3 linked regions of the Homo sapiens genome follow. The protein of the gene in region 1 interacts with the protein of each later gene in a biochemical or structural test. Each region holds a gene or a part of one and is shown in the gene's direction. Other genes may lie near its edges.

Region 1 (12,228 bases):
AAACGACAGGATCAAATTCACAGATAACGATATTAACTTTGAATGTAAATGGGCTAAATGCTCCAATTAAAAGACACAGACTGGCAAATTGGATAAAGAATCAAGACCCATCAGTGTGCTGTATTCAGGAGACCCATCTCATGTGCAGAGACACACATAGGCTCAAAATAAAGGAATGGAGGAAGATCTACCAAGAAAATGGAAAACAGAAAAAGGCAGGGGTTGCAATCCTAGTCTCTAATAAAACAGACTTTAAACCAACAAAGATCAAAAGAGACAAAGAAGGCCATTACATAATGGTAAAGGGATCAATTCAACAAGAAGAACTAACTATCCTAAATATATGTGCACCCAATACAGGAGCACCCAGATTCATAAAGCAAGTCCTTAGTGACCTACAAAGAGACTTAGACTCCCACACAATAATAATGGGAGACTTTAACACCCCACTGTCAACATTAGACAGATCAACGAGACAGAAAGTTAACAAGGATACCCAGGAATTGAACTCAGCTCTGCACCAAGCTGATCTAATAGACATCTACAGAACTCTCCACCCCAAATCAACAAAATATACATCTTTTCAGCACCACACCACACCTATTCCAAAATTGACCACATAGTTGGAAGTAAAGCACTCCTCAGCAAATGTAAAAGAACAGAAATGATAACAAACTGTCTCTCAGACCACAGTGCAATCAAACTAGAACTCAGGTATAAGAAACTCACTCAAAACTGCTCAACTACATGGAAACTGAACAACCTGCTCCTGAATGACTACCGGGTACATAACGAAATGAAGGCAGAAATAAAGATGTTCTTTGAAACCAACGAGAACAAAGACACAACATACCAGAATCTCTGGGACACATTCACAGCACTGTGTAGAGGGAAATTTATAGCACTAAATTGCCCACAAGAGAAAGCAGGAAAGATCTAAAATTGACACCCTAACATCACAATTAAAAGAACTAGAAAAGCAAGAGCAAACACATTCAAAAGCTAGCAGAAGGCAAGAAATAACTAAGATCAGAGCAGAACTGAAGGAAATAGAGACACAAAAAACCCTTCAAAAAATTAATGAATCCAGGTGCTGGTTTTTTGAAAAGATCAACAAAATTGATAGACTGCTAGCCAGACTAATAAAGAAGAAAAGAGAGAAGAATCAAATAGATGCAATAAAAAATGATAAAGGGGATATCACCACCAATCCCACAGAAATACAAACTACCCTCAGAGAATACTATAAACACCTCTATGCAAATAAACTAGAAAGTCTAGAAGAAATGGATAAACTCCTCAACACGTACATCCTCCCAAGACTAAACCAGGAAGAAGTTGAATCTCTGAATAGACCAATAACAGGCTCTGAAATTGAGGCAATAATCAATAGCTTACCAAACAAAAAAAGTCCAGGACCAGATGGATTCACAGCTGAATTCTACCAGAGGTACAAGGAGGAGCTGGTACCATTCCTTCTGAAACTGTTCCCATCAAAAGAAAAACAGGGAATCCTCCTTAACTCATTTTATGAGGCCAGCATCATCCTGATACCAAAGCCTGGCAGAGACAGAACCAAAAAAGAGAATTTTAGACCAATATCCTTGATGAACATTGATGCAAAAATCCTCAATAAAATACTGGCAAACCGAATCCAGCAGCACATCAAAAAGCTTATCCACCATGATCAAGTGGGCTTCATCCCTGGGATGCAAGGCTGGTTCAACATATGCAAATCAATAAACGTAATCCAGCATATAAACAGAACCAATGACAAAAACCACATGATTATCTCAATAGATGCAGAAAAGGCCTTTGACAAAATTCAACAACCCTTCATGCTAAAAACTCTCAATAAATTAGGTATTGATGAGACGTATCTCAAAATAATAAGAGCTATCTATGACAAACCCACAGCCAATATCATACTGAATGGGCAAAAACTGGAAGCATTCCCTTTGAAAACTGGCACAAAACAGGGATGCCCTCTGTCACCACTCCTATTCAACATAGTGTTGGAAGTTCTGGCCAGGGCAATCAGGCAGGAGAAGGAAATAAAGGGTATTCAATTAGGAAAAGAGGAAGTCAAATTGTCCCTGTTTGCAGATGACATGATTGTACATCTAGAAAACCCCATCATCTCTGCCCAAAATCTTCTCAAGCTGATAAGCAACTTCAGCAAAGTCTCAGGATACAAAATCAATGTACAAAAATCACAAGCATTCTTATACACCAATAACAGACAAACAGAGAGCCAAATCATGAGTGAACTCCCATTCACAATTGCTTCAAAGAGAATACAATACCTAGGAATCCAACTTACAAGGATGTGAAGGACCTCTTCAAGGAGAACTACAAACCACTGCTCAAGGAAATAAAAGAGGATACAAACAAATGGAAGAACATTCCACGCTTATGGCTAGGAAGATTCAATATCGTGAAAATGGCCATACTGCCCAAGGTAATTTATGGATTCAATGCCATCCCCATCAAGCTACCAATGACTTTCTTCACAGAATTGGAAAAAACTACTTTAAAGTTCATATGGAACCAAAAAAGAGACCGCATCGCCAAGTCAATCCTAAGCCAAAAGAACAAAGCTGGAGGCATCACGCTACCTGACTTCAAACTATACTACAAGGCTACAGTCACCAAAACAGCATGGTAGTGGTACCAAAACAGAGATATAGATCAATGGAACAGAACAGAGGCCTCAGAAATAATGTCCTATATCTACAACTATCTGATCTTTGACAAACCTGACAAAAACAAGAAATGGGGAAAGTATTCCCTATTTAATAAATGGTGCTGGGAAAACTGGCTAGCCATATGTAAAAAGCTGAAACTGGATCCCTTCCTTACACCTTATACAAAAATTAATTTAAGATGGATTAAAGACTTAAATGTTAGATCTAACTGCATAAAAACCCTAGAAGAAAACCTAGGCAATACCATTCAGGACATAGGCATGGTCAAGGACTTCATGACTAAAACACCAAAAGCAATGGCAACAGAAGCCAAAATTGACAAATGGTATCTAATTAAACTAAAGAGCTTCTGCACAGCAAAAGAAACTACCATCAGAGTGAACAGGCAACCTACAGAATGGGAGAAAATTTTCGCAACCTACTCATCTGACAAAGGGCTAATATCCAGAATCTACAATGAACTCAAACAAATTTACAAGAAAAAAACAAACAAACCCATCAAAAAGTGGGCGAAGGATATGAACAGACACTTATCAAAAGAAGACATTTATGCAGCCAAAAGACACATGAAAAAATGCTCACTGGCCATCAGAGAAATGCAAATCAAAACCACAATGAGATACCATCTCACACCAGTTAGAATGGCGATCATTAAAAACTCAGGAAACAACAGGTGCTGGAGAGGATGTGGAGAGATAGGAACACTTTTACACTGTTGGTGGGACTGTAAACTAGTTCAACCATTGTGGAAGTCAGTGTGGTGATTCCTCAGGGATCTAGAACTAGAAATACCATTTGACCCAGCCGTCCCATTACTGGGTATATACCCGAAGGATTATAAATCATGCTGCTATAAAGACACATGCACATGTATGTTTATTGTGGCACTATTCACAATAGCAAAGACTTGGAACCAACCCAAATGTCCAACAACGATAGACTGGATTAAGAAAATGTGGCACATATACACCATGGAATACTATGCAGCCATAAAAAATGATGAGTTCATGTCCTTTGTAGGGACATGGATGAAACTGGAAAACATCATTCTCAGCAAACTATCACAAGGACAAAAAACCAAACACCACATGTTCTCACTCATAGGTGGGAATTGAACAATGCAAACACATGGACACAGGAAGGGGAACATCACACACTGGGGACTGTTGTGGGGTGGGGGGAGGGGGAGGGATAGCATTAGGAGATATACCTAATGTAAATGACAAGTTAATAGGTGCAGCACACCAACATGGCACAGGTATACATATGTAACAAACCTGCACGTTGTGCACATTTACCCTAAAACTCAAACTATAATAATAATAAAATGTTTTAAAAATTCAATAGATTTTACAATATTTTTAAATAATTATGACTTTGTATTTATACATTTTATTTGTATTAGTATGTTTTCTTACATTAATTATACTTTTTATAAGGACAAGATCCGACTCAGTACTGATGTTCTTTAGAGCCTACTTACACATTTCATTGTATTTTACTTTAGTAAGAAAGCCACAAAATAAAAATCTACATTAAAATATGTGTGTACAAAAAAAATCTGATTCCCAGCCTATTCCTGTTTGCAATTGCTGCAACATTAAAATATAGCACATCAAATACATATTTGCTTCTCGGCTAGGATCGCCAAAGAAAAAACATCTTATGATTTGTGGTTGCTGTTATTTAATCTTCCCTGAGCTTCATCTTCCCTCATCTGTAGAAGGGGAATATTATTGAGTTTGGAGTGCTTTTGTAATGATTAAACACAGTAGAAGATGAAAAGTGCCCAGTGCAATTAGCAGGCCTTCAATCAAAATAAGCAAGCTAGCTAGCTAGCTGGCTGGCCAGCTAAATAATGCTTCCCTACATCCAGAATTTCCAGTTGTTTCATTAGATATGCACATTCAAGTTTTTACTTAGGTAATTTTAAATGTGTCCCAGTGGCAAGTGTCCTGCTAAAGGGGTACTGTTAGCTTCTTCTCACCTAAAACTTAGTTTGTTACAAAGGAAATGCCAATTATGGAAAAAGTCAAGCCTTGAGCTACTGAAGGCCGAGTAACCTCGCCAAAGTTTGGATGAGTCGCTTCACTAATGCACATGCAATCCTGACCTAGAGATCATGTGAGTTTCTGCGTTAGAAGGCGGGCACCTGATGGCTCCCAGTGCAGCCAATCAGGAGAGAACGTTGCCGCCACACCCACCTGCTCCGCGCTGGCCCTGGGAGAGGAGCCAACCTGTCTTGCTTTTTTTTTTTTTTTAACCAGGCTAAGCTGCTGTAAATTAAGTCTTCCTGGAAATCTCAGCAACTCTATTGGACGTGCTAATGGCACAGTTCACTCCAAACTGGATTCATATTTAAATATTACATATCCTCCAACTCTTGAGTGCTTTAATTTTGTTATCTGGTTAGCCTGGGAAATCATTTTAAAAATACGCTATAAGTATCAGACTTTCCCTTAGCAATTATATAAAATCTCCTTGCAGTTTTCTGAAAGGCACAGAAGTGCAGTTTGATTTGGTTGTCTTATCAAAGGACATTTATGCATGAAAATAGGCTGCAGGAGTATTCTATATAAGATAGCAGGCAGTTCTGCACGTCTGTTTATATGCCATTCACACCATGAACACATCCAATGCAATTGTATTCATCTTCTGTCATTTTTTAAAATTAGAGTTTACTACATGATTTTTGGAGGACGGCCATATCATAGTTATTCATCCCTTGCATGGTCTGTTCTGCCACTTCTAAAGTTCTGCGAAGTTTAATTTTTGGCAGGTTTCAAGATTCTCTACATACTTTGTAGGTTAGAGTGAACGTGCACAGTATATTGTGTAATAATTGCAATACAAGACGGTGTGTTGTGTTGTGGCACGGAATGCATCAACTTAAAGATAGAATTGTTATGCAGAATAGAGACCTTTGAAATATTTGGGTATTATCAACTTTTATTTCATTTTTTGAGAAAAACTTAAAAAGTGAGCCCAGTTTTTTAAAAAGCATTTCATTGTTCTAACCTACAATTGTGCATTGTATGTTTGTGTGTGTGTGACGGAGGGTGGGATGAATAAAAGGGGACATTAAAAATATTCAGACCATAAATATAGTAGATTGGAGGTTCTGATTTGATGAGCCAGTTTCTCAGCCATAAACTGAGAGGGGGTTGGGGATACACTTCATTGTCCTTCCTGGCTAATGTAAATCCCTTATATTTAAAAAGATATTTAAAAGTATTCCAAGCATTTTGGCAGAAAAGCATAGTATCTAATGTTATTTTTTTCTTATTTTATGTGCATGCCTCTTATCCATTTAAAAATAGCTTTACTGACCTATAATTTACACACTATATAATTCTCCCATTGAAAGTGCATAATTCTGTTGCTTTTAGTATATTTACAGAGTTGTGCAGCATCAGCATAATGTAATCTAGAACATTGTCATCAACTACCCCCAAATCTCTATTCTTCCCTTCCCCTATTAATTACCCAGCCCCAGGCAAGCACTGATCTACTTTTGGTCTCTATGGATTTGTCTATTTGTGGACACTTTAAATGGAATCATACAATATGTGTCTTTTGCGACTATCTTCTTTCACTTATCATAACTCAATACGGCTTTAGATTATTTGACCTCGATGTTCTGCCTCTGAACATAAAATATTATCCTTGCATTCCTTGATGAGTTTGAGGATTGAGAATAATTTGCATGAGACAAAAATTAGAAACTAGTTAGAGCAAGTAGGCTTTTCTCCATCACATAAGCTGATCCATCTTGCCAATGTTAAAACACCAGATTGTACAAGCACAAGCTGGGACGCAATGTGTGTCCCTCTATCCCTACATTGACTTTGCGGGGGTGGGGATGGGGTGCGGGGTGAGTGAGGGAGGACTGCAAGTGACAAACAGGATTCGTCAAAAGAGAGGTGTATTAAAGTGCCGATCAAATGTAATTTAACAGCTAAACTTTCCCTCCTTGGAAAACAGGTGATTGTTGAGTATTTAACGTGAATCGATGTAAACCTGTGTTTGGTGCTTAGACAGGGGGCCCCCGGGTAGAGTGGAACCCCTTAAGCTAAGCGAACAGGAGCCTAACAAAGCAAATTTTTCCGTCTGCCCTTTCCCCCTCTTCTCGTTGGCAGGGTTGATCCTCATTACTGTTTGCTCAAACGTTTAGAAGTGAATTTAGGTCCCTCCCCCCAACTTATGATTTTATAGCCAATAGGTGATGAGGTTTATTTGCATATTTCCAGTCACATAAGCAGCCTTGGCGTGAAAACAGTGTCAGACTCGATTCCCCCTCTTCCTCCTCCTCAAGGGAAAGCTGCCCACTTCTAGCTGCCCTGCCATCCCCTTTAAAGGGCGACTTGCTCAGCGCCAAACCGCGGCTCCAGCCCTCTCCAGCCTCCGGCTCAGCCGGCTCATCAGTCGGTCCGCGCCTTGCAGCTCCTCCAGAGGGACGCGCCCCGAGATGGAGAGCAAAGCCCTGCTCGTGCTGACTCTGGCCGTGTGGCTCCAGAGTCTGACCGCCTCCCGCGGAGGGGTGGCCGCCGCCGACCGTAAGTTTTGCGCGCAAACTCCCCTCCACCTGCAGACCCGGCGGGTGGCCACTGCCACCCGAACTGAGGATGAGAAGAAGGAAGTTGGAAGGGGCGGTGGATGCGCCCAGGGACTCTCCCAGCCTGGGCTCTAGCCCCGAAACGGTCCCCGGAGTGGGATCCAGGAGGGGCCGGGAGGGAATCTCCTCCCGATCGTGAAGCGGCGGCGCCCAGTTCCCGCTTTTTCTCTCTGCCGGGTTCCCGCGCTATCCCTTCCACTCTGGCTGGGACCGCGTTCCCGGGCTCGCAGGCTCCGCCGGGGAGGTTCCGGGGTGTGGGGGCCGGGACGGCGGAGGCGGGGAGTAAGGGCCCGGCTGGCGGTGACCTGCAGTCACCTCTCTGCCGGAGGGGCCCTGGAATGAAAGGCGCGCGGGCCAAGGTGACCTCGCCTTGGTTGGCACTGCGGCTCAGCCCCCGCCCGGGGACTCGCGGGCCGACTGTGGCCCCTTCTGGGGAAGCCGGGGCGCGGGGAGGCGTTCCGGGCATCTCAGCCGCACGGGGTACGCTCGCCCTCGGCGGGGCCCCTCGCTCCGCTGTGGGAGTGGCAGTGGGTGTCGGGGTGGAGAAAGTACGCGTGGCGCGGAGTCCTGGGGACGCGGCGTCCCACCCGCTCTGGGGAGCCCCGGACTCTCTCCAGCTTCCAGGCTCGCATGCCCCTCTTTTCTTAGTGCCCTGAGAACCCAGCGAGGGGCTGACCCTCCCGAAACCGTGGCGCAGCCACCAGCAATCTGTGGTCGCCGACTCGGGGGGTTGCCAGGTCTGCGTTTGGCCACCCTTTCTGTCCTGGGGGCTGAGGTCAGCTCCGGGCGCCCGGCCCCGCCGCGCGGCTGCGAGCACGTGGGGTTGACGGGCGCCGCGTGGAGGCAGCGAGCACAACGGTGGTCACCGCCGCCAGGGAACCGCCCGCTCGCTGGGGTCCAGGCGTTCGGGGCCAAATGAGAATGTCTCAGACCTGTCCGCAATGGAGGCAGCCTGCTTAATTCGAACCTCGATTCAGTAAACATGCAACAGCAGCATAGAGAGCAGCTGAAGCCATTCATAACACGGGACAACATTTCCTTTTTTCTTCCATGCTGGAATTGCAATTAGGGCGGTGTCGCTTGGATGTGCTCTCAGGCGGCACGTCCCCAGCGGTTCAAGTTATAATAGAGTCTCTCCATAGCTTTGATGGCCGCTAAACGTTTGTTTTATTTTGGCATTAATTTGTGAAACATTTTTGTTAGGTTAAAAAACAAAAAGTTGGCAGGGAGCAGTGGCTCACCCATGTAGTCCCAGCACTTCGGGAGGCCGAGGCCGGAAGACAGCTTGAGCCCAGAAGTTCGAAATCAGCCTGGGCAACATAGGGAGACACCGTCTCTATAAAAAAAAAATACAAAAATTAGCCGGGCGTGGTGGCCTGTGCCTGTGGTCCCAGATAGTCAGCAGGCTGAGAGATCACTTGAGCCAGGGAGTTTCAGTAGACTGCAGTGAGCTGTGATTGCCCCACTGCACTTCATCCTGGGTGACAGTGAGACCCTGTCTCATAAAATTAAAACAAAACAAAACAAACACTAAGTATAGATTCCATCAAAGCAAAATTGGATAAGAAAAAAAGTATCTTTTCTATTGGATCAGTTTGAAAACACTGGAGAGTTGATGAGAAAGTCTTCAACATCTTAGGTGGGGTATGTTTCGTATGTTTCCCTTCGTACTGCTTAATGCTGACAAGAAGATGGTAGGAGCCAACTCCAAATTCTTATTTCAGAAAGCACACCATAGAATAACGTCATTTTCATTGCAAAACAAGCACCGAAATATGTCATCACATTCAAGTTTTTCCTAGGCTCCCTTACAGGTTCAAGATCCTAAATTCTTGGGAGTCAGTGTCACCTCTCTGGGTTTAGGTTCCTCAACTCTGCAATGAGTTTGGATGAGGCCAATGTTCTCTGAGCCTGGTGTAACTCTTGCCTCTTTAAGTGGACACTTATGTGATTAATTAGTTTAATTGAGTTGTAGCCAACACATGCTTTTCCTAGCTGTAAATATATTAAGGAAGGATTATTTCCAAGTAGACTGGAAACGATGCCCTCCCATCCCCTCCACTTTCACTCTACTCACCCAATATATCATGCCTCTCCCATCACAGCAACTTTCTCCCTCTTTCTCCTCCAGATGCATTCATCTAGGAAGGTAAGAATTTCAGGGAGAGAAAGATGTCACCGTGGTAGAAAGACAGGGATCACCTCCTCTGGGCTCTTGAGTTTACTTATTCATTCTGGATTCTTTCTAACAAGAATATGAGGACAAGAGGCACTGTCCTCAGGCACTTCGTCCTGGGAGCCACCACCATCTCTGCATGGCCCCAATTAGGAAACGTGAAGAGCTAGGAGAGGGAGAGTATGGTCAGTGCTTAGCAGCTGAAGTTCCACTTGCCTGGCCATCGTGAATTTCCAGGCTGTCTTCTGAGTTGAACATGATGGCAAAGGAGAGCAAAATAGCAGATGTCACTGAAGGAGAGCTCAGCGAGGGAGTGATTGATTAATAGCTGTATTGAAAGGTGGGAGTCAGGTACGGGGGAAGAGCGGCGATGGAAAATTTTCGCTTTCTTTCAGCAGCTTATTTTTAACTCAGCTTTCTGTTCTTGCTTTATTATGGAGGAAAAATTGGGCCATAGAGTTTACTGCCTTATGCCAGATTGTTCAAGAAAATGCCTTGCAACTTACAATATTTTGCAGCTAGTTTCTTCCGTGACCACCACAAAGACTGCATTGACTTAAATATGAAGATGTTCCAGCCATCAAAATGATGGTTGGTGATGATTTTGGATCACAAAGTGTAAGGAAAGTATTCAAGACATGAGTATCATGATTTTTTAAGGTCTGGATGAAGAGACCATTTGGATTTACTAATAAGGTAAATTCCAACTTTTATGGCAATAAAAACAACAAAAACACTTATCAGTGTAAAGCTTTGGGATCATCTATCCATTAAATGAGTTTGTCACCACAGTGAACTAAATACCTTTTATCAACAGAGACTTTCTAACCTGGGAGTAAAATTCTTGTCACAGTGCTTTTGTCACATTCTGTCTTTGCAAAAGTTGAAGGCTCCAATAGTTTCTGAAGGACTAATAGGATAGGGTTCCAACTTACTCAGAGGCTAAGAGTTTGAAATTTACTCTGAACGATGTCTGTTCACTAGACTGCGTGACTGCAGTTTGCTGTCTTGTGGCCATTTTAAGATTGTCTGTGTGCACTGACACCATTTGCGTACTCAACAACAGGTATCTACTAGGAAGGAAGGAATGGATTATCTTAGGTGCTATATATATATGTAAGTTCTGCCGGAAGTGAGCCTATTAAACTTGTGCCAATTCATTCCTTTTGCTCTTCCCAGTCTGTGCTCTCAGAATGATCAAATGCTATCTAAGTAGTGTGGTGATTTTGACTGTTTGAATGAATAAACGAAAACGTCTCCCACCATTATTTGACAGTAGAATAGAACAAAGATGACCCAGTTGGCGTGGCCACACTGTGTCTAATCCAGCCACCTTGCTCACAGCACTCAACCCACTTTGGTGTGTGCGCTCATCTGTATTTTCGTAAATGTTGAAGTCTCTTTCTATGCAGTCAGGTAGGGGTAATACCATTCTGGCTTGGATTAATTTGAGTGTAGTACAAAGTTTAGAGAAGCTTTTAAGTAGCATGAAAAGTCAGATGCTTTCGGAGGGATGGTGGTGAATGTAGGTAAATGGATCTGCACTTAGAGATCCTCAACAGCCCTTCATTCAAGATACAGCTATCATGACATCAATAATGTACCTTTGAAAAAAAATTGGCTGCAGAATTAATTACGGTGAAAAACAGTATAGGAGTTAGCACTTACATTTTAACTAAAAAGAATAGCGTCCCCATGTTTATTCAGCCCTCCCTCCAATAAAACAATTGTTGGCAAAGTAATCATGGACTTTCATTGTGTTAGTTTGAGACAACTGGATGTTTCCATTTGCCATCCTCAGCAACAAGAAGAAAGTAGTCTCAGATTAACCAGGTAAGTATTTTGTATTTCACTTAAAAAATCTTGACTGAAATATGCCTATGTGATGACACTCAACCAAATTATTTCATTAACCAGTCCACAAGATCTCCTTAAATAATGATGGCTTATTCACACTTGATGGTCTCATTCAGTGGGGCAATTTTAATACACATCTCTGAACCTATTTTTTAACCCCTCTTTTTCAGTAGTGTGGAAGGTTAGCCCTAATATTGGAGAAAATTCAGGGTAAAATTCAGATGATTCATACAGGATTTATTTTTCCTATTCCATTAATAAAACAACTTTTATAAAAATAAAAAGTAGGCTGGCACAGTGGCTCACTCCTGTAATCCCAGCATTTTGGGAGGCCGAGGCGGGTGGATCATGAGGTCGGGAGTTCAAGACCAGCGTGGCCAGGATGGTGAAACCCCATCTCTACTAAAAATACAAAAATTAGCCAGGCGTGGTGGCAGGCACCTGTAATCCCGGCTACTCGGGAGGCTGAGGCAGAGAATGGCTTGAACCCAGGAGGCATAGGTTGCAGTGAGTCACGATCGTGCCACTGCACTCCAGCCTGGGTGACAGAGCAAGACTCCGTTTCAAAAAATAATAATAAAATAAAATGAAATAAAGTAAAGCTGCATGTTAGAGAAGTCAAGAGCATTACTTACGTTAGAATATCTGAACAGACCAATCAATTCAGTCTGATCATGATATTGATGTTTTTCTTCACCAAATCGACCACATCAGTAATTCACTTTGTTCTTCGATATCCTACAGACACTGCCTGAGTCGATAACTATGACTATCAGTCTCAGAGAGCAAATGAATTACTGAGGAAGCCCTGTAGGAGTGAGAGAAAAGGGGGGAGAGAGAGAGAAAGGGGTGGGGGGATAACAGGAGAACAG
Region 2 (11,376 bases), on another chromosome or scaffold:
AGACCCCCGTCTCTTCTACACACACACACACACACACACAAAATAAATAAAATAAAATAAAATAAATATAAAATTAAAAAACGACCGGGCGCAGTGGCTCACGGAGCCTCCACCTGCTGTCGAGACTAGCCTGGCCAACATGGAGAAACCTCGTCTCTACTAAAAATACAAAAAATTAGCCTGGCATGGTGTGCATGCCTGTAATCCCAGCTACTTGGGAGGCTGAGGCAGGAGAATCTCTTGAACCCGGGAGGCAGAGGTTGCAGTGAGCCGAGATCGCAGCACTGCACTCCAGCCTGGGCAACAGAGTGAGACTCCTCAAAAAAATAATAGCGATAAAATAAAAATAAAGCCAGGTGCGGTGACTCACGCTTGTAGTCCCAGCACTTTGGGAGGGCGAGGCCAGTGGATCACCTGAGGTCAGGAGTTCAAGACCAGCCTGACCAACACAGTGAAACCCCGTCTCTACTAAAAATACAAAAATTAGCTGGGTGTGGTGGTGGGCGCCTGTAATCCCAGCTACTGGGGAGGCTGAGGCAGGAGAACCTCTTGAACCCGGGAGGCGGAGGTTGCAGTGAGCCGGGATCATGCCATTGCACTCCAGCCTGGGCGACAGAGCTCGACTCCATCTCAAAATAATAATAATAATAAATAAAATAAAATACAAATACAAAAATTAGCCAGGTGTGGTGGCAGCTACTTGGGAGGCTGAGACACAAGAATCACTTGAGTCTGGGAGGCAGAGGTTGCAGTGAGCCAAGATTGCGCCACTGCACTCCAACCTGGGTGACAGAGCGAGACTCTGTCTGAAAAAATAAAAAATAAGCCAGGCATAGAGCTGCATGACTGTAGTCCCAGCTACACAGGAGGCTGAAAACAGGAGGATCGCCTGACCCCAGGAGTTGGAGGCTGCAGTGAGCTGTGACAGCACCACTGCACTCCAGCCTGGGCGAGAGAACGAGACCCCGTCATTGGGAAAAAAAAGAAAAAAGAAAGACTCCCTTGCCTGGCCTCAGCGGATGGAGATTTGGAAGGATGGATGAGTGGATGAATTAAGAGGTTGGGGTAGGCAAGCTGGGTCCTCACCAAGGTTTTCACCCCTCCCCAGACACAACTCAAGGCTCAGAACAGCAGGATCCAGCAACTCTTCCACAAGGTGGCCCAGCAGCAGCGGCACCTGGAGAAGCAGCACCTGCGAATTCAGCATCTGCAAAGCCAGGTAACCCTAGGATCAAGGGAGAAAAGGTCCCTCTGATAGCTGGACCCCAGGTTGAGAGGGAGGTGGTGAGAACTGGACGTGTGGCTGGGGACGTGGGGCCAGGCAGGACCTGACACCCTCCTCCCGTCCCATCCTAGTTTGGCCTCCTGGACCACAAGCACCTAGACCATGAGGTGGCCAAGCCTGCCCGAAGAAAGAGGCTGCCCGAGATGGCCCAGCCAGTTGACCCGGCTCACAATGTCAGCCGCCTGCACCGTGAGTGTCTGCCCCTCGATGCTCTCCGGTGGCCACCCCTACCCCGCCACTTGCCATTGCTGGTCCTCTCCTTGTCAGGTCCACCTTAAGGAGAAGATGTCCTGGCCTGGAGTCCCTGAGGGCTCACCAGTCTCTGGGTCAAAGCTGATGGGAGCACCTCCTTCCTCAGCCCTGACCTGGCCCAGCCAGGCCACCCAACCCTTCTCCTCTGCAAGCCAGTGGGCTGTCCCTGAAGCCCTGCTGATCACTGATTGGAACAGAGGTGGAGAAAGAGGTCTTGAGGGACTTGAGCTGCAGGGGTGCTGGAGAAGGTAGAAATGGGGTTCGGGGTGCCATCCTGAAGGTTAGAACCTTCTAGGGGAGGGTGTCATGGAGGAGGGGGTGCCAGGTAGTAGTGTTTGTAGATTTGGGCCCTCCACAATGTCTTGGGGTATGTGGGAATTAGGGCTGGGAACCCCCAGCTCCCAGACCAGAAACACTCTTGTATCTTACAAATCCAATGCTCCAGGTCCCTGACCCCTCTTCCTCCTTCCTCTCTTGTTCTCCTCCTCCCTCCCCGCCCCCGCCGGCCCCCTCCCCACCGCAGAAAGTGGGCTTTTGCTGCCACCACAAGTTGTAGGTGCTTTATTCCCAAATCTCCGTTCATCTCGAACCACAGCATGTCCACGTGTGTCCGATGCAGACTCGCGGTTCTCTAAGTTCACGGCCCCACACGGTTTCTCTGTGGTCCTCATCCTTCCCTGCATCTGTGGCTGTCCACAGCCAACTGGGTGAAAGTTTGGATCCCCCTCTCACACCCTAGGGTCAGTGGCAGGCTTCCAGCACTGTAGACCTGAGGGTTCTCTCCTCCCCAAGCTCCCGCTCCTTCCCACCTCCGTGCTGCCCGCCCCCAACCCCGCCAGGCTAGCATCTCAGCGTGGTCAGGGTCCTGTCCACCCTCCCAAAGCCACCATCCCAGGATGAGGGGCTTCTGGAGGGTGACGGGGGAAGGCACAAGTCCTGGCTGGGAAATGCGGTGGAAGGGGGCAGGGGTTCTGTGGGTTCGGGACTCCCAGACTCTTGGCTCAGGCCCGCCAAGTAGGAGAAAGTTCAGAGCTGGGAAGGCGAACAGCTGGCATTCATGGAAGCCACACTGGTGGTTTGGCCGCGTGCCCATCCTTACTGGATGGGAGGAAAGTAGGGGAAAGGGGAGATGCCTGAGGGGCCGGAAAGCGTCTTCCTGGTCACTCTGGGCCCGCCCCCACCCCCACCGTGCAGACTCATTTCGACCTTTCCCCTACTTTTCCGGCTGGGCTGGGGGCGGTTCCTCCCAGTCTGGAGCGTCTGAGCCTCCAGACGTGCTCAACGCCATCCTCCCCTCCTCCCTCCCTCTTTCTTTCCTCAACCCTGCCTCCTCTCCCTCTAGGAGCTGGGACCCCAGGCAGAGCCTCTGAGATGCTCCTGCTCAGCACAGTTCTTCCCGTTCTGGACCTGCTGCCTCATTCATTCATTCATTCATTCATTTGTCAAGACTGTTTTGTTTGCTTTTTGAGACGGAGTCTCGCTCTGTTGTCCAGGCTGGAGTGCAGTGGCGCAATCTCAGCTCACTGCAACCTCTGCCTCCCACTGGGTTCAAGTGATTCTCCTGCCTCAGCCTCTCAAGTAGATGGGATTATAGGCGCCTACCGCCACCACGCCCAGCTAATTTTTATTCATTTATCAAGTCTTTTTTTTTTTTGAGACAGAGTCTCACTCTGTCACCCAGGTTGGAGTGCAATGGTTCAACCTCAGCTGACTGCAACCTCTGCCTCCCGGGTTCAAGTGATTCTCCTGCCTCTGCCTCCTAAGGAGCTGGGATTACTGGCGTCCACCATCACACCCAGCTAATCTTTGTATGTTTTACTAGAGATGGGGTTTGGCCATGTTGACCAGGCTGGTCTCAAACTCCTGACCGATCCGCCCGCCTCCCAAAGTGCTGGATTACAGGCATGAACCACTGCGCCCGGCCCATTCCTCAAGTCTTTATTGAGCAGCTGCTATGCGCTGGGGCCTGCGTGGATGCTGGTGCCAGGCTGTGGGCAGAGCTGCTCCTTGTCCCCAGCCTCATGGAGCCTCCATTGAGTCAGAGGAGAGACCATTAGATGACCTCAGTGTCCAGGAGTGGGAAGTCCTTGCTCAATTCCCATTTGGGGTGTTCTGGCCTGGTCTGGGGGTGAGGCAAGGCAGGGTGTCCTTCCAGAAGCTGGGACCCAGAGAGAGAAGTGAGGAAAGAGAGTCCCGCCGGGCGCAGTGGTTCACACCTGTAATCCCAGCACTTTGGGAGGCCAAGGCTGGCGGATCACGAGGTCAGGAGATCGAGACCAGTCTGGCCAACATGGTGAAACCCCCGTCTCTACAAATAATGCAAAAACTAGTCGGGCGTGGTGGCACATGCCTGTAGTCCCAGCTGCTCCGGAGGCTGCGGCAGAATTGCTTGAACCTGGGAGGCGGAGGTTGCAGTGAGCCAAGATTGCGCCACTGCACTCCAGCCTGGCGACAGAGCGAGACTCCGTATCAAAAAACAAAACAAAAAAAGAGAGTCCCAGGCAGGGGGAACAGCATGTGCAAAGTCCCTGTGGCAGGACGGTGTGTGGTACAAGGGTGGGAAGAAAGCCTGTGTGCCAGAGAGGGTGTGGGTACAGCATGGCAGGAGGAGGATGGGCACGGGGGCTGGTCCTCCAGGTGCCTTGTGGACCATGCTGAGGAAGGACATAGGGAGCCATGGAAGAGGTTAGGCAGATGGCAGAGAGGTGGTCATGAGATAAGATTTGCCTTTTACTTCCCTGGTCATCCACTGTTAAGCCCCCAGATATGCCTGGCTCCTGAGACCCCCCCCAGGGGCTGCCCTCCTGTTTCAAGTCTCCACTTTATCTCCCTTCAGGGCTGCCCAGGGATTGCCAGGAGCTGTTCCAGGTTGGGGAGAGGCAGAGTGGACTATTTGAAATCCAGCCTCAGGGGTCTCCGCCATTTTTGGTGAACTGCAAGATGACCTCAGGTAGGGTGTGTTAGTCCACCAGGGGCCCCTCTCCCCATAGGCCCTGTTGTCTTTCTTTAAATTGAAAACAAAACAAAACAAAAAAATTAAAGGCAGGGTCTTGCTATGTTGCCCAAGCTGGTCTTTTTTTTTTTTTTTTTTTTTGAGATGGAGTTTTGCTCTTGGAGCTGGAGTGCAATGCCACGATCTCAGCTCACTGAAACCTCCGCCTCCCGGGTTCAAGCAATTCTCCAGCGTCAGCCTCCCCAGTAGCTGAGACTACAGGTGCGAGCAACCACACCCAGCTAATTTTTGTATTTTTAGTAGAGACTGGGTTTCACCATGTTGGTCTGGCTGGTCTCAAACTCCTGACCTCAAATGATTTGCCGACTTTGGCCTCCCAAAATGCTGGGATTATAGGCATTAGCCACTGCTCCTGGCCTCTTTTCTTTAAAATGCAGCCCTTGTCTGGGTGTAGTGGCTCATATCTGTAATCCCGACACTTTGGGAGGCCTATCATGAGGATCACTTGAGCCCAGAAGTTCGAGACCAGCCTGGACAACATAGTGAGAGCTCATCTTTACAAAAAATTTTGTAAAAGTAAAAAAAAAGGCCAAGTGCAGTGGCTCACACCTGTAATCCCAGCACTTTGGGAGGTTGAGGCAGACAGATCACGAGGTCAGGAGTTCGAGACCAGCCTGACCAACATGGTGAAACCCCGTCTCTACTAAAAATACAAAAATTAGCCGGGCATGGTGGTGTGCACCTGTAATCCCAGCTACTCAGGTGGCTGAGGCAGGAGAATCTCTTGAACCTGGGAGGCAGAGGTTGCAGTGAGCTGAGATGACGCCACCGCACTCCAGCCTGGGCGACAGAGCGAGACTCCGTCCCCCCATCAAAAAAATAAAAAAGAGAAAATAAAATAAAATAAAATAAAATTCAGCCCTTGCTGGGCATGGTGGCACATGCCTGTAGTCCCAGCTACTCGGGAGGCCAAGGCAGGAGGGTCACTTCAGCCCAGGAGTTAAAGGCTGCCGTGAGCCGTGATCACACCTGTGAATAGCCACCGCACTCCAACCTGGGCAACACAACAAAACCTCGTTTCTAAAAAAAAACAAAGGCTGAGCACGGTGGCTTACACCTGAAATGCCAGCACTTTGGGAGGCTGAGGCGGGCAAATCACTTGAGGTCAGAAGTTCAAGACCAGCCTGGCCAACATGGTGAAACCCTATCTCTACCAACATAAACATTAGCCGGGCGTGCCTGTGATTCCAGCTGCTTGTGGGGCTGAAGCACAAGAATCGCTTGAGCCCCGAAGGCAGAGGTTGCAGTGAGCTGAGATTGCGGCACTGCGATCCAGCCTGGGCAACAGAGTGAGACTCCATCTCTAAAAAAAAAAAAAAAAAAAAAGAAAGCTTTTTTTTCCACTGAGAAGTCCTTTCCATTACAAGAGGTTACAACACGGGGTTTTACCCAGTTCAGCTGGCCCAGAGAGGCTTTGCAGATTTCCACTGCCTACTCCCTCCCACACTCAGTCCCTGCTGGGTTCTTGGGACAAAGATCTTCCCAAGGCCAGCCCATAATATTCCTCCCTCTGACCCACCCTCCTCGAGTCCTCCAGGGATGAGTGAGGGAGCTGCTGTCTTCCTGGGTTTGGAGGGGGTTTGGTGCTTGGCAGCCAGATGAGGGAGTGGGGTCGTCTGTGAAGAGGGACTTCCTGGTGACCTTGTACCTTTCTGGGCAGATGGAGGCTGGACAGTAATTCAGAGGCGCCACGATGGCTCAGTGGACTTCAACCGGCCCTGGGAAGCCTACAAGGCGGGGTTTGGGGATCCCCACGGTAGGTGTTTCTAGTGGGGACAGAGGCAGGGGAGGAAGAGGGACCCTCAGAAGTGGCCCTGCCTCATGGAGTGGCCTCTCCCACTCCAGGCGAGTTCTGGCTGGGTCTGGAGAAGGTGCATAGCATCACGGGGGACCGCAACAGCCGCCTGGCCGTGCAGCTGCGGGACTGGGATGGCAACGCCGAGTTGCTGCAGTTCTCCGTGCACCTGGGTGGCGAGGACACGGCCTATAGCCTGCAGCTCACTGCACCCGTGGCCGGCCAGCTGGGCGCCACCACCGTCCCACCCAGCGGCCTCTCCGTACCCTTCTCCACTTGGGACCAGGATCACGACCTCCGCAGGGACAAGAACTGCGCCAAGAGCCTCTCTGGTGAGCAGGCCCTGCCATGCCACACCCAGCCAGCAGCTTCCCTCCTTATCTTTCTGCTGCTCTGTCCTGCCTTCAACCCCACATTGCATCTGTTTCCTGCCCCCACCTCTTCCTTACATGCCGTGTGTGTGATTGGGCCACTAACTTAGCCTATCTGGCCTCAGTTTTCCCATCCTGAAAAGGGTCTTGACCGTCTTTACTTTTATTTACTTATGTGTTTGTTTATTTATTTATTTATGTATTTATTTTTTGAGACGGAGTCTCACTTTGTCACCCAGGCTGGAGTGCTTTGTGGCACGATCTTGGCTCACTGCAAGCTCCACCTCCTGAGTTCACACCATTCTCCTGCCTCAGCCTCCCGAGTAGCTGGGACTATAGGTGCCCACCACCACGCCTGGCTAATTTTTTTGTATTTTTAGTAGAGATGGGGTTTCACCGTGTTAGCCAGGATGGTCTCGATCTCCTGACCTCGTGATCTGCCTGCCTCAGCCTCCCAAAGTGCTGGGATTACAGGCGTGAGCCACCGCGCCCGGCCTACTTATTTATTTTTTGAGACAGAGTCCCGCTGTGTCTCCCAGGCTGGAGTGCAAGTGACGTGATCTTGGCTCACTGCAGCCTCCGCCTCCTGGGTTCAAGTGATTCTCCTGCCTCAGCCTCCTGAGTAGCTGGGATTACAGGTTCCCGCCACCATGCACAGATAATTGTTTTGTATTTTTAGTAGAGACGGGGTTTCACCATGTTGGCCAGGGTGGTCTTGAACTCCTGACCTCAAGTGATCTGCCCACCTCGGCCTCCCAAAGTGTTGGGATTACAGGCGTGAGCCACAATACCCGGCCACAAACATCTTTATAATGGTGCTCCACAGGATTCTTTTTTTTTTTTTTTTTTTGAAACAGGGTCTCACTCTGTTGCCTAAGCTGGAGTGCAGTGGTGCGATCTCGGCTCACTGCAACCTCCACCTCCCGGGTTCAAGCAATTCTCAAAAAAAAAAAAAAATTAGGCACGGTGGCTCACACTTGCAATCCCAGCACTTTGGGAGGCTGAAGCGAGTGGATCACTTGAGCCCAGGAGACCAATCTGAGCAACAGGGCGAAATCCTGTCTCAATTAAAAATACAAAAAACTAGCTGGGCATGGTGGTGCCTGCCTGTGTTCCCATCTACTTGGGAGGCTGAGTTGGGAGGATCTCTTGAGCCTAGGAGATAAGGCTGCAGTGAGCTGAGACTGCGCCACTGCACTCAAGCCTGGGTGACAGAGTGAGACCCCTGCCTCAAAAGAAAAAGAAAAAATGCAGGCATGGTGGCTCACACCTGTGGTCCCAGCTACTTGGGAGGCCCAGGTACAAGAATCACTTGAGCCCGTAAGGTTGACGCTGCATTGAGCCATCACCACACCACTGCACTCCAGCCTGGGCAATGGAGCCAGGCCCTGTCTCAAAAAAAATTGTTTTTAAACTTAAAAATAAGGCCGGGTGTGGGGGCTCACACCTGTAATCCCAGCACTTTGGGAGGCCGAGGTGGGTGGATCACCTGAGGTCAGGAGTTCAAAACTAGCCTGGCCAACATGGTGAAACCCTGTCTCTACTAAAAATACAAAAATTAGGCCAGGCGCAGTGGGTCATACCTGTAATCCCAGCACTTTGGGAGGCTGAGGAGGGTGGATCACATGAGGTAAGGAGTTTGAGACCAACCTGGCCAACATGGTGAAACCCCCTCACTACTAAAAATACAAAAACTAGCCAGGCGTGGTGGCGGGTGCCTGTAATCCCGGCTACTCAGGAGGCTGAGGCATGAGAATCCCTTGAACCTGGGAGGCAGAGGTGCAGTGAGCCGAGATTGTGCCACTGCACTCCAGCCTGGGAGATAGAGTGAGACTCAGTCTCAAAAAAAAAGACCAAAAATTAGCCAGGTGTGGTGGCAGGCGCCTGTAATCCCAGCTACTCGGGAGGCTGAGGGAGGAGAATCACTTAAACCTGAGAGACGGAGGTTGCAGTGAGCTGAGATCGCACCACTGCACTCCAGCCTGGGTGACAGAGTAAGACTCAATCTCAAAAAAAAAAAAGTCAAGTCCAAAGCCCAGCCTGGTCCCCAACCTGCCTCATCCTCAACCCTATCCCTATCTCCTTTCAGCCCCATCGGTGGCTCAAAGACCTGACCATGTTCCCTCTCCCCTGACCCCGGCAGGAGGCTGGTGGTTTGGCACCTGCAGCCATTCCAACCTCAACGGCCAGTACTTCCGCTCCATCCCACAGCAGCGGCAGAAGCTTAAGAAGGGAATCTTCTGGAAGACCTGGCGGGGCCGCTACTACCCGCTGCAGGCCACCACCATGTTGATCCAGCCCATGGCAGCAGAGGCAGCCTCCTAGCGTCCTGGCTGGGCCTGGTCCCAGGCCCACGAAAGACGGTGACTCTTGGCTCTGCCCGAGGATGTGGCCGTTCCCTGCCTGGGCAGGGGCTCCAAGGAGGGGCCATCTGGAAACTTGTGGACAGAGAAGAAGACCACGACTGGAGAAGCCCCCTTTCTGAGTGCAGGGGGGCTGCATGCGTTGCCTCCTGAGATCGAGGCTGCAGGATATGCTCAGACTCTAGAGGCGTGGACCAAGGGGCATGGAGCTTCACTCCTTGCTGGCCAGGGAGTTGGGGACTCAGAGGGACCACTTGGGGCCAGCCAGACTGGCCTCAATGGCGGACTCAGTCACATTGACTGACGGGGACCAGGGCTTGTGTGGGTCGAGAGCGCCCTCATGGTGCTGGTGCTGTTGTGTGTAGGTCCCCTGGGGACACAAGCAGGCGCCAATGGTATCTGGGCGGAGCTCACAGAGTTCTTGGAATAAAAGCAACCTCAGAACACTTTGTTCTTTGTTCTTGTTTGTTTTCTTTCTTTTTTTTCTCTTTCTTTAGTTCACAGATCTAGTAAGTTACCCTCAGTTTGTTTTAAAAAGTGAACAAAGTCCATGTAAACATGTTCCCAGGGCCAGGCACGGTGTCTCGTGCCTGTAATCCCAGCCATTTGTGAGGCCGAGACAGGCAGGTCACTTGAGGTCAGCAGTTCGAGACCAGCCGGGCCAACATGGTGGAACCCCCATCTCTACAAAAAAATACAAAAATTAGCCGAGCATGGTGGTGCACGTCTGTAGTCCCAGCTACTCTAGAGGCTGACGCAGAAGAATCACTTGAGCCAAGGAGGCAGAGGCTGCAAATAAGCCGAGATTGCGCCACTGCACTCCAGCCTGGGCAACAGAGCAAGACTCCATCTCAAAACAAAAATAATTTTTTTTTCGTAGAGGCAGGGTCTCATTCTATTGTCCAGGCTGGTCTCAAACACCGAGACTCAAGGGATCCTCCTGCCTTGGCTTCACAAAGTGATGGGATTAAAGGTGTGAGCGCCACTGCACCCACCCCTGAAGGCTCTAATTCTACATCTGTGTTTTGTTAAAAAAAAAAAAAAAAGATGGCGTGGTCGCTCATGCCTGTAATCCCAGCACTTTAGGAGGCCGAGGCAGGTGGATCATCTGACATTACGAGTTCCAGGCCCGCCTGACCAACATGGTGAAACCCCGTCTCTACTAAAAATACAAAAATTAGCCGGGTGTGGTGGCGGGTGCCTGTAATCCCAGCTACTCAGGAGGCTGAGGCAGGAGAATCACTTGAACTCGGGAGGTGGAGGTTGCGGTGAGCAGAGATCATGCCACTGCACTCCAGCCTGGGTGACAGAGCAAGACTTGATTTCAAAAAAAAAAAAAAAAAAAAAAAGAATAGGGCTGGGCGCATTGGCTCACACTTGTAACACTAGCACTTTGGGAGGCCAACGAGCGGATCACCCGAGGTCGGGTGATCCCGCTGTATTGCTCTATATAGTGAGATCCCTATATAGGGTCTCACTCTATTGTCCAGGCTGGTCTGGCCTGGCCAATGTGGTGAAACCTCATTTCTACTAAAAATACAAAAATTAGCTGGGCATAGTGATGCGCACCTATAATCCCAGCTACTCAGGAGGCTGAGGCCGGAGAATTGCTTGAACCCAGGAGGTGGAGGTTGCAGTGAGCCGAGATGGCGCTGAGAGGTGACAGCGTGCTGGCAGTCCTCACAGCCCTCGCTCACTCTCTGCGACTCCTCTGCCTGGGCTCCCACTGTGGCGGCACTTCAGGAGCCCTTCAGCCCACCGCTGCACTGTGGGAGCCCCTTTCTGGGCTGGCCAAGGCCGGAGCTGGCTCCCTCAGCTTGCAGGGAAGTGTGGAGGGAGAGGCGCGAGCCGGAATCGGGGCTGCGCGCGGTGCTTGTGGGCCAGCTGGAGTTCCGGGTGGGCGTGGGCTTGGCGGACCCTGCACTCAGAGCAGCCGTCCGGCCCTGCTGGCCCCGGGCAATGAGGGGCTTAGCACCCGGGCCGGACAGCGGCTGCGGAGGGTGTACTGGGTCCCCCAGCAGTGCCAGCGCACCGGCGCTGCGCTTGATTTCTCACCAGGCCTTAGCTGCCTTCCCGCGGGGCAGGGATCGGGACCTGCAGCCCGCCATGCCTGAGCCTCCCACCCCCTCCATGGGCTCCTGTGCGGCCCGCGCCTCCCTGACGAGCACTGCCCCATGCTCCATGGTGCCCAGTCCCATCCACCACCCAAGGGCTGAGGAGTGCAGGCGCACGGCGTGGGACTGGCAGGCAGCTCCACCTGCAGCCCCGGTGCAGGATCCACTGGGTGAAGCTAGCTG
Region 3 (6,294 bases), on another chromosome or scaffold:
CACTTAAATAAAAATAAAATGTTACTGCTAAACTAACGATAAACTACTGAATATATAGAAAGTAAGCAAACAAACTTGCCAACCTGCCAACATCTACAGATATGTTTACAGGTCAAAAATTATCAAATTATCAAGAAAGCCTGGTTCAAATTATGTATTATGTCTTTATCACAGGTCTGAAGATCAGTAAGACCTAAAACTGAAAATTATTAAACTTAAAATCTGAACAGAATATCAAATATATTTTATTCATATAAATAAAAGAATACATTACAATATTCTAAGCAAAGCAGTCTCTACTTTTGGCCTTGCTCTGTTTTCCGACCAATGTCTGCTTTTTTGCCTTGCTTTATTTTTTTATCTTATTAAATAATGTCCCTGATTAAATATTTTGAGAACAGGTAATCTGTACAATCTGAATAACACTGTTTATCTAAATATCAAACACCGTTATAACATTATGAACTGAAAGACAAACTGTACTTCTGACATCCTTACTCAGATTTCCCCTAATTGTATATTCAGTATCATTTTAAAAAACAGATTTATATTCTTTTATCAGCTCAGAAGGACTAGTATTCAAGAACCCACAGAAATTTCTCTATCTTCCAAGCCAAGAGCACCAAGAACTACTCCCTTTCTTCAGTTGAATGAAATAAGAAATGTAAAACATGATGGTAAGACACTTTGGTGGGTTTCCTTCTTGAAGCTATTATTATCAAATTCCCTATTCTTAGGACTTGTTCTAGACTAAAAGATAGTTAAGAGATATCCATCAAATACAATGTATCAACCTAAACTGGATGCTGGGGTTCTTTTTACACCCTATAAAAGACATACCTAAGACAATCAGAGAAATACAAATATGGACTTGATTATTAGATAATATAGAAGGTTTATTAATTTTCTTAGATGTGATCATGGTATTGCAGTTTTAAAGGAGAACAATCTCCTGTTTAAGAGATACATGCTGAAATATTTACGGAGTTAAAGGTCACTGGACTCCAGACTGGTGATAGAACAAGACTCTGTCTCTAAAAAATAATTAATTTTTTAAAAGAAAATAGTTTGGTAAGATGATTCTTACATTCTTAAATAACACGCCATCTAAGAAAAATGCTTTAACATAAACATTACTGAAAAAATGCTACATTTGCCACAACTTCATAAAATGTCAAGTGAAATCTCAAGCTCCAAAGATATTATTCCTATTACTAAATCTGATGTAATAACATTTTATTGATTCTAGGCATTCCTGCTGAATGTACCACCATTTATAACAGAGGTGAACATACAAGTGGCATGTATGCCATCAGACCCAGCAACTCTCAAGTTTTTCATGTCTACTGTGATGTTATATCAGGTAAAACCTGTCTAAGGAGAATAGACAGTAGTTAGTTCAACTTACTCATTACGTATTAGGAAGATTAACCTGGTTATCATTGTTTTATACATATATATATGAAATATATATGAGTATTCGTATAAATATAATACTTTTACCTTGTTTATGTATTTACTCAATATTCTCCTTTTCCTCTAAAATAATCTGAAGTGACTATTATCAATAAGTTTACTATGCCAAAATTCATTAATTGCCTTTCACTTAACTTTTGGGACCATAATAAATAATAAAATGTATTGCCATAACATTAATAAACTACCTTACAAAACCACCAATTAAAATCAAACAAACAAAAAAGTGTTATTTACATCTGTCAACATAAATCTACTAAAAATACATGATTTCATTCATTATATTCAGGTAGTCCATGGACATTAATTCAACATCGAATAGATGGATCACAAAACTTCAATGAAACGTGGGAGAACTACAAATATGGTTTTGGGAGGCTTGATGGTAAGGGGACTACATTCAATCATTCATTCACTTGCTAATCTACAAATATTTACTGAGAACCTCTTATGGACCAGGTATTAGGAAAAGTAGTAACGAACGAGAAGCAGTCTCAGCCTTCATATAATTTATTATCAAACAATTACACATTTGTTAGTAAATTACACTTATTACAACTGTTATTATTTGAATTATATTTATCACAATTACATGTCTGTTCTTAAATATACTTATCACAATTTAATTCCACGGCTTACAATGATCATAACTATAATTATTAAAGACAATTTTGATTAAATGTTATGTCATAAGTAGTAACTGTTACAAATAAGCTGTGAAAAGAACCACTCCTAGCATTAGTCACTCTATTCTCTCATTAACGTTTTACATATCAATTAATTGGAAGTTAAAAGGACCAGGAAACTCAGACATACAGTATACATTTTAAAATTTCAATTATTTAAATATAATATATAGAATGTATGGCTTATAATGAATTAGTTAACTCAATGCAAATTATTCTATTTTGATTACAAATAGTAAAATAAGCAAGATAAAATAACAGATGTTTAAAATCCAAAAAGCACATACAAAAATCCATGAATGATGTCTAAGTACTCACTTATAAAGTAGAAGACATTCATTATTATATCAAATTTTTAAATGCTCAGTACTATTTGACCATTTAAAAATTTTGTATTCAAACTACCAGTGAAAGCCCTACCTAGAAGGTATACTCAGTGATAAGTTTTGTAGCTCCAAATCTTCTAATAGTGAGTGTAACCCCAAAATAAAAGGCTGACAGGTAAGTCGAGAATACTCACTTAATTCTGGTAAGAAAGCAACCCATTTGTACTTGTATTTACCAGCAATCCTTAAAATGAAGCTTCCTACTAACTCAATAGCAATAAGACAATAGTGAATGTTTAATGAAAACAGTATTTTATAAATACTTTAATAAAAAGGATTGTGATGAAGAACAATCTATTTATATTTGTTATTTGTTTTTAATTCCAATAAAAATAATTTTTAAAATTACAGAAAAAAGTTATTAAGAACCATGCTTTTAAATTTAAAATGATTTTTTAAATTTATTCCTGTCTTTTTCTACAAAGAAAGCATACATTAAGCAAATACCAAAGGCCAGGTTTACATTTGAAGAAAGTGACATTATTATTACTCAAGTCTCTAGGAATACTTAACACATCTCTTGACTGTATATGGATGTTAATAAATAGCTGACAGTAAAGTTTATCCATATAAAGACTTGCAAATATTCCTCTACCAATGACGAGACTTTAAAATATCTATAATAATGTAACACATTTCACTGGTGAAACATGTCTTGTCATATGCATTATAGAAAGGATAATCAGACTTTCAGTTATATTAATATTTTTAACATTTTTGTGCACATAGCTATCTTCAATAAAATTGTTTTAAAAGGTATTATTTTAAGATACACTAAAATGATCAAGGGATTCAAGACTAAACAACTCAATTAGTTGCACCAATAAAAAACACTTAAAAAAACTGTCAGTGTCCAACCTGTACTTAATAACTCACAGATTTTTAAAACTTTTCTTTTCAGGAGAATTTTGGTTGGGCCTAGAGAAGATATACTCCATAGTGAAGCAATCTAATTATGTTTTACGAATTGAGTTGGAAGACTGGAAAGACAACAAACATTATATTGAATATTCTTTTTACTTGGGAAATCACGAAACCAACTATACGCTACATCTAGTTGCGATTACTGGCAATGTCCCCAATGCAATCCCGGAAAACAAAGATTTGGTGTTTTCTACTTGGGATCACAAAGCAAAAGGACACTTCAACTGTCCAGAGGGTTATTCAGGTATCTTTTTCTGATACCAATACTTTATTTTCATATCTTCAAAGTATCTTCCCACATTATTAGCTATTATCTGCAATGACAACTTTTAAAAATCCGAATCCCAAATAAGCGTTTTCTCTCTAGACGAAAACCTCTTAACTATAATGAAAGTGTTCATTCTAGTTCAATCAGGTATTTTACCTCTAATCTTCCTCAGATTTTCTATTTTTTGGTAGTGTATAGATTATTTATACAGATTATTTAAAATTGGGACTTATACAGATTATTTAAAACTGGGATACATGCATCTAAAACACTGTAATATTTATAAGAAAGGAAGATAAACTTACGGGGAAATACAGTAACAGTAACTACATACGAGTCTGTACCCATTAAATTGCATATCTATCTCCTTTAGGAGGCTGGTGGTGGCATGATGAGTGTGGAGAAAACAACCTAAATGGTAAATATAACAAACCAAGAGCAAAATCTAAGCCAGAGAGGAGAAGAGGATTATCTTGGAAGTCTCAAAATGGAAGGTTATACTCTATAAAATCAACCAAAATGTTGATCCATCCAACAGATTCAGAAAGCTTTGAATGAACTGAGGCAAATTTAAAAGGCAATAATTTAAACATTAACCTCATTCCAAGTTAATGTGGTCTAATAATCTGGTATTAAATCCTTAAGAGAAAGCTTGAGAAATAGATTTTTTTTATCTTAAAGTCACTGTCTATTTAAGATTAAACATACAATCACATAACCTTAAAGAATACCGTTTACATTTCTCAATCAAAATTCTTATAATACTATTTGTTTTAAATTTTGTGATGTGGGAATCAATTTTAGATGGTCACAATCTAGATTATAATCAATAGGTGAACTTATTAAATAACTTTTCTAAATAAAAAATTTAGAGACTTTTATTTTAAAAGGCATCATATGAGCTAATATCACAACTTTCCCAGTTTAAAAAACTAGTACTCTTGTTAAAACTCTAAACTTGACTAAATACAGAGGACTGGTAATTGTACAGTTCTTAAATGTTGTAGTATTAATTTCAAAACTAAAAATCGTCAGCACAGAGTATGTGTAAAAATCTGTAATACAAATTTTTAAACTGATGCTTCATTTTGCTACAAAATAATTTGGAGTAAATGTTTGATATGATTTATTTATGAAACCTAATGAAGCAGAATTAAATACTGTATTAAAATAAGTTCGCTGTCTTTAAACAAATGGAGATGACTACTAAGTCACATTGACTTTAACATGAGGTATCACTATACCTTATTTGTTAAAATATATACTGTATACATTTTATATATTTTAACACTTAATACTATGAAAACAAATAATTGTAAAGGAATCTTGTCAGATTACAGTAAGAATGAACATATTTGTGGCATCGAGTTAAAGTTTATATTTCCCCTAAATATGCTGTGATTCTAATACATTCGTGTAGGTTTTCAAGTAGAAATAAACCTCGTAACAAGTTACTGAACGTTTAAACAGCCTGACAAGCATGTATATATGTTTAAAATTCAATAAACAAAGACCCAGTCCCTAAATTATAGAAATTTAAATTATTCTTGCATGTTTATCGACATCACAACAGATCCCTAAATCCCTAAATCCCTAAAGATTAGATACAAATTTTTTACCACAGTATCACTTGTCAGAATTTATTTTTAAATATGATTTTTTAAAACTGCCAGTAAGAAATTTTAAATTAAACCCATTTGTTAAAGGATATAGTGCCCAAGTTATATGGTGACCTACCTTTGTCAATACTTAGCATTATGTATTTCAAATTATCCAATATACATGTCATATATATTTTTATATGTCACATATATAAAAGATATGTATGATCTATGTGAATCCTAAGTAAATATTTTGTTCCAGAAAAGTACAAAATAATAAAGGTAAAAATAATCTATAATTTTCAGGACCACAGACTAAGCTGTCGAAATTAACGCTGATTTTTTTAGGGCCAGAATACCAAAATGGCTCCTCTCTTCCCCCAAAATTGGACAATTTCAAATGCAAAATAATTCATTATTTAATATATGAGTTGCTTCCTCTATTTGGTTTCCTTAAAAAAAAAAAAAACTCTCATAGGACATGTTTCATTTTGTTCCTTTCAGGAGTAGTAAATTAGACGTTTTCCCCATATAAAGCTTTTTTCTACCAGAAAGATACTTCTGGTAGAAGAAGAGAAAGGAGCTCTTTATGGTTCACACGACTGTCTCCTGTCCTAACTACTTTGCTTAAAGTGCTCAAATTCCATCACTACTCACAGTTGTCTAATCTAAGTCTAATCCCCTTTGATCTCTCAGACTACCTTCCCTTTTATCTCTCTACTACTTAATAATAAGAATATCTTTTTTTCAAACTTGACCTTCATTTTGCTTTCACAATACTATACTCTCCATGGATTATCCCTTATCTGAATCCATCTTTATAACCCTATTCCTTTCTCATATTTAGTACTGTGGGCCAATGGACAACCTTCAATCATCTTTTCTACACTGACCCTCAGACATTCTATCTGCTCTCACGGACTCCTTTATTTACCATGAATAAAGTTCCAAAA

The links.
Region 2: the proteins of LPL (region 1) and ANGPTL4 form a complex in vitro, tested with the Homo sapiens proteins (one study listed by IntAct).
Region 3: the proteins of LPL (region 1) and ANGPTL3 form a complex in vitro, tested with the Homo sapiens proteins (one study listed by IntAct).

Annotation. Positions count from the first base shown.
Region 1 is NC_000008.11:19,932,265-19,944,492, forward strand, and holds the start of LPL (lipoprotein lipase precursor), read left to right. Parts: upstream 1-6,988; 5' UTR 6,989-7,176; coding exon 7,177-7,264; intron 7,265-12,228. UniProt on the Homo sapiens protein: Key enzyme in triglyceride metabolism.
Region 2 is NC_000019.10:8,364,846-8,376,221, forward strand, and holds the end of ANGPTL4 (angiopoietin-related protein 4 isoform a precursor), read left to right. Parts: intron 1-1,108; coding exon 1,109-1,219; intron 1,220-1,356; coding exon 1,357-1,474; intron 1,475-4,373; coding exon 4,374-4,487; intron 4,488-6,210; coding exon 6,211-6,306; intron 6,307-6,395; coding exon 6,396-6,677; intron 6,678-8,805; coding exon of another isoform or gene 8,806-8,859; coding exon 8,860-9,041; 3' UTR 9,042-9,525; downstream 9,526-11,376. UniProt on the Homo sapiens protein: Mediates inactivation of the lipoprotein lipase LPL, and thereby plays a role in the regulation of triglyceride clearance from the blood serum and in lipid metabolism. May also play a role in regulating glucose homeostasis and insulin sensitivity.
Region 3 is NC_000001.11:62,600,520-62,606,813, forward strand, and holds the end of ANGPTL3 (angiopoietin-related protein 3 preproprotein), read left to right. Parts: intron 1-562; coding exon 563-677; intron 678-1,249; coding exon 1,250-1,363; intron 1,364-1,765; coding exon 1,766-1,861; intron 1,862-3,449; coding exon 3,450-3,716; intron 3,717-4,113; coding exon 4,114-4,298; 3' UTR 4,299-5,794; downstream 5,795-6,294. UniProt on the Homo sapiens protein: Acts in part as a hepatokine that is involved in regulation of lipid and glucose metabolism. Proposed to play a role in the trafficking of energy substrates to either storage or oxidative tissues in response to food intake.